Regions from separate parts of the Homo sapiens genome. Here region 2 is linked to region 1. Evidence: fine-mapped expression QTL. Tissue or cell type: whole blood. Region 1 holds a variant in brackets; the other region holds the start of a gene. All regions are shown on one strand. Distances are from middle to middle.

Region 1 (2,500 bases):
CTACTTAGGCTTTTTGTGCTCTTCTAAATTGCAATGAAAAATCTTATGAAAATGTTTGATGTGTTACATTCACAAATATGATTTTCAGAAATTAAAACTCTTAGTAATATATATTCTTAAATATCATAGTGAAGTTTTTGTTAGTAAATTTATATTATGCTGATTCTTACATTGTAAATGTGTTACCATGGCACCTACTTAATCACACTTGGCAAATCTAACCCAGTTATTTAATCCGGTTAATCTATGTAAGATTCACTCTTATCAAAGATCAGTCATCTAGCAGCCTCAAAGTAAAGCAGGTGTCCAGTAATCAGTTGATGGAACATTTGTAAAGAATGGAAAAGATCATGATACTGACATTTTGCTGGTTAACTGAATGAGGGAGTCGTAGGCAGCATTCATTTAAGAAATATTTAAAATGACTGATTCTTGGTGGGGCATCATGGCTCACACCTGTAAACCTAGCACTTTGGGAGGCTGAGGTGGGCGGATCACTTGAGGTCAGGAGTTTGAGACCAGCATGGCCAACATGGTGAAACCCAGTCTCTACTAAAAATACAAAAATTAGCCAGGCATGTTGGTGGGCACCTGTAATCCCAGCTACTTGGGAGGCTGAGGCAAGAGAATCGCTTGAATCTAGGAGGTGGAGGTTGCAGTGAGCCAAGATCATACCACTGCACTCCAGCCTGGGAGACAGAGTGAGACTCCGTCTCAAAAATATAAATAATAAATGCAATAAAATGACCGATTTTTAATATTTTTGGAGTTACGGATACCTTTGAGACAAGATGTTTCCTCCAAAACGTACTCACTTATGCACAGTTTTGCATGCAAATTTAATTACAGACCCTCTAGCGCACATCCGTGGACCTCCTACTTAAGAGCCTGTGTTGTAAACTAAGACTTCAAATGATCCAGTGTCATTGAATAGTACAAGCACAGACCTGTCTTTGAGGAGTCTTCAAGTCTTAAGTGGTGCTTATAACCATGAATTAAAGGATTATCTTGTACATATAAATAGCTTTGAAATGTCTGGCAAACATCTTTTAACTGTACTTACACATTATGAAATAAAATAGGGAGAATTTAAGATTTGTGAGAACTTTAGGTCAAGATGAATCATCTTGTTTTTTTTTTTT[A/T]AAAAAGCATGCCACCTAAATAACAATATATTTTCCTTTTAGGTTGGCACGTTGGATGTCTTGGTTGGCTTGTCAGATGAACTGGCTAAACTGGATGCATTTGTAGAAGGGTAATGTACTTATATGCATGGAGTAGAGCAAAATGGGAGACACTATTATCAGGCTTCATGGACACTGGGTTTATTATCACATGTATACTCTGCTTATTGGAATGGTTTTAGAAAACGACTTTTTTCCCTTCGTATATCAATTTTATGAAGGTACAATTTACATAAAATGCACCTGTTTGAAATATGAAAATGCTGATTCTCTTTTTACTATCTTTAATGGGATATAGTTTACATGCCATGCATTTCACCTATTTCAGGTGTACAATTCAGTGATTCTTAGTGTATTCAGACTTGTGTAACCATTGCCACAATCAGTTTTAAATATTTCATCATCCTCTATTCCTGTTCCCATTAGCAGTCACTTACCGTCCCCACCACCCACAAATTGTTCTGCCACTATAGATTTGCTTGGTCTGGACATTTCTTGTAAATGGAATACAATACGTGGTCTTTTGTGACTGTCTTCTTTTGCTTAGCATAATGTTTTGAAGTTTATCCCAGCAGTTGCATGTATCAGTATTTCATTTCTTTTTATTACTAATATTCCACTATATATGTATACATATATATCACATTAATCCGTTCATCAGTTGATGGGCGTTTATTTTGTTTCCACTTTTTGGCTTATAAGAATAATGCTGCTGTGCATATTTGTGTAGAAGTTTGTGTTCTTAAATGTTTTCATTTTTCTTGGGTATGTACCTAAGAGTGGAATTTCTGGGTCATATGGTAACTCTATGCTTTGCTTTTTGAGGAACTGACAAACTGTTTCCCAGAGTGGCTGTACCGTGTAATATTCCCGCCGGCAGTGTATGAAGATTCTCATTTCTCTACATCCTTGCCAGCACTTGTTATTATTTTTATTATTTGTCTTTTTGATTATAGCCATCCCAGGGGGTATGAGATAATATCTTTGTTTTTTTTGTTTTTTTTGAGACGGAGTCTCGCTCTGTCGCCCAGGCTGGAGTGCAGTGGCATGATCTCGTCTCACTGCAACCTCCACCTCCTGGGTTCAAGCAATTCTCCTCCCTCAGCCTCCTGAGTAGCTGGGATTACAGGCACCCACCACCACGCCCAGCTAATTTTTTTTTTTTTTTGTATTTTTAGTAGAGACGGGGTTTCACCATGTTGGTCAGGCTGATCTCAAACCCCTGACCTCGTGATCCACCCACCTTGGCCTCCCAAAGTGCTGGGATTACAGGCGTGAGCCACCGCGCCCGGCTGATAATATCTCATTTTTAAAAATTT
Region 2 (2,852 bases), 22 kb before region 1:
GGCAAGGCACAAGAATCGCTTGAACCCGGGAGGTGGAGTTTGCAGTGAGCTGAGATCGCACCACTGCTCTCCAACCTGGGCGACAGGGCGAGACTCCATCTCAAAAAAAACCCCAAAACTAAAAAAAAAACCCCAAATGTTGGAAAGTTGCGCGAGGTATAATTCAGTTTAGAAATTAAGAATCCAAGACAAAAAGTCTGCCTCAGGACCACACACAAGCACGAAGAAACCAAGATAGTTCAAGCATGGACCTTAAAACTGCACTGTCTAAGGCTGTTGTCACTGGTCTCATGTGGCTATTTAAATTTTAATTAAAGTGAAATAAATTTTAAAATTCAGTTACTAAGTCACACTAACCATATTTCAAGTGCTCAATGGCTCCATGTAGCTAGTGGGTACTGTACAGACAGCACAGGATAACATTTGCATCATGGCAGAAAGTTTTAGTGGACCTAACCAAAAAAAAAATGCCTTTAGGCTCATTTCGTGATGGCAGATAAAAGCCTCTGGAATTCTGATAAGTTTCTGAAGCCATGTTATAGAACTGGTTATTGTAATTGCATGAACTTCATCCAAAACTGGTGAAAGCGTCAGGTTGGGGATAGTCTGGTGGTTGTTACTTTCTGTCCAACCTAATACTGAGGCTCTGAGAAATTCTGTGGTGAATTTCTGTAGGGGGACACAGCAGAAAAGGCATAGTATAGGTCAGAAAACCTGGGTCCTATAATACATAGTAATAATGACGACCATTTACTGGTTGTTTCCTATGTACCAGGCACTGTGCTAACCACAGGCTTCATTTAATCCTCACAATACCTGTGTAAGGTATTATTACCACCACTTTGCATGTGAACAGGCTGAAATTCAGAGGAGTAAGGTCACACAACTAGTAAGTAGGAGAGCCTGGATTCAACACCTGGTATCTATTCCCTTGCGCTGAACAACTCCGTGCCCTCACTTTCTTCATCTGTAGATCTAAAAGGATTAAATTAGAACATCTCAAAATTTCTACTACTTCTAAAACTCTGTGTTCTAAATTAGGACATTACTATCTATCTCCCCAAGCTAATGAAATAAGCAGGGTTCCTGGGAGGAGCTTGTTACCTATTTTTCTCCAAAGGAGATGCTTTCCCCTGTCTATGCCTCTGTCCTAAAACCTTTGGTTTCCCACTATCTAATGTGGTTTCAACTATCTATGAGGCGCTTTCGTGGCAAGGAGTGATTCTCTCCAGTAGGCAATCCTAAGAACGAGCGCAGTGCTTGGCGCACAGTAAATGCTCCATGGACCATTTATGAAATTAAGTCTAAGTGGACTTCAGGAAAATGTGAATCTGCTAAAATGAACTACTAGCCAGTATACTAGGTAGAAAACCCAGCTGACGAAGAAAACCCCAAGTGGAGAAGCCCTTGTAGGGGGTTGGAGACAATTTCTGACCCGCAGAAACCTGCAGTGGCGCTGACGTTTACAAGTGGTGGACAAAACGCCACTTGCAACACTGGAAGAAGCGGAAAACCCCACCCACTCTGGAACAACAGCGATCAGCCCCGAATATAGGGTCCCCTTGCCGCCCCGTAGCCTCCTAGTCCCGCCCCTCTCCCAAGGCCCGGCAGTGGCAGCGGCTGCGGCTGCGCAGTGGCGCGGGCGTAGGCGGAGCAGCGCGCGCCGCGGTCAGCTGACTGCTGGGCTGGCACGTGACTTGTTCTGTGTTCGCTTGGGTAGAGGAAGCCGTGAGGCCGGAGCTTAGGTCGGGAAGGGATGGATCGCTGAGCCGATAGCGTCCGCTAGGCTGTCTGCCTCGGTACCTGTTACTGCTGCTACTTCCTCGTTTGACACCTTCCTGGGTCAGTGAGCGATGGCTCTCCCCGGATGGGGAGTCCTGGTCAGGCCGAAGCATGAGCTCCGGTCGCTGCCTGGGAGGGACGCGGGTGGGTGCGGGGGCAGAGACCGTGGCGTTGGAGCTGGAGCTGGCTGGGTGGCTGTGTCTGGTTTCTCGGCGCCAATTCACCGTCTTGGGCCTAGGTTCCGTCTCTAAGGAAGAGAAGGAGGGAAAAAGAGAAAGAGCTCTCGTGGGTAGTTAATGACAGGCAGAAAGGAGAGATACAGCGGTCTGGGATCTTTCTTCTTGGGTAGGAATGCACGCCGCCTGATTGATTGAGGGGAATGAAGTGATAGGTCCAGGTGAGGCTATGGAGTGGTGTGTGTGAGGTCACAGCTAGCGCAAGTGCCTTCACTGGGTGTGTGTTGGGGGGGGCGCGGGTGTCGGGGGTCGGGGGTGGTGGGATGACAGTTTAAAGGCCTAGGAGCCCCTAACTGCAGGCAAGGAACCCTCACAGAGTACACAAGGTCCCTCTAGGAATGAGAAAGAACAGGAATCCAGAGAACTCAACTATTTTTTAGTAGAATGGGGGAGGGTAGGCAAACAAAACAGAACAAAACAAAACAAACCCCTAGAAAAGAACTTGGTGAGAGTCACATAAGGCATATTGAATCACTTGAGAAACAGGAGTAAGGGGGAAGCTAGTATTCTTTTCAGAGGAAAATTCTGGTATGTTAGGGAAAAATCACATGCTTCAGTGCGAGCCCAGTACTTAGCGCCGCTCTGGGAATGGAACGGGTGGGATGTGAACAGTCTATCCTTAGGAGTTAGCACTAACGTTGGAGAGAAAAGTCTACACACAGGACACGTTAAAATACGATGCAGTTTATGTATACTTACCAAAAAGAGAATGCGAAGTGCTTTGAAAGTGTGGAGCAACGACACATGTGTAAACTGGCACTATGGGAAGATATTCTGGAGGAAAGAAAACTTGAGTCTTGGCAAGCCCTCAGGATTTGAACAGGTTGAGAGAAA

The links. PIP is the estimated chance that this variant, and not a neighbour inherited with it, causes the effect.
Region 2: ATP6V1C1 starts here. The variant in region 1 is fine-mapped to the expression of ATP6V1C1 in whole blood (TOPMed, PIP above 0.99).

Annotation. Positions count from the first base shown.
Region 1 is chr8:103,041,156-103,043,655 of GRCh38, forward strand. ATP6V1C1 (ATPase H+ transporting V1 subunit C1) reads left to right here. Exons shown (of 13, transcript NM_001695.5): 3 at 1,185-1,252. Among named protein-coding and RNA genes, the nearest start is that of ATP6V1C1, 21 kb to the left of the region's middle. The variant A/T (reference allele first, on the strand shown) is at 1,143.
Region 2 is chr8:103,019,384-103,022,235 of GRCh38, forward strand. ATP6V1C1 (ATPase H+ transporting V1 subunit C1) reads left to right here and starts at 1,700. Exons shown (of 13, transcript NM_001695.5): 1 at 1,700-1,842. RefSeq lists an enhancer at 1,930-2,139.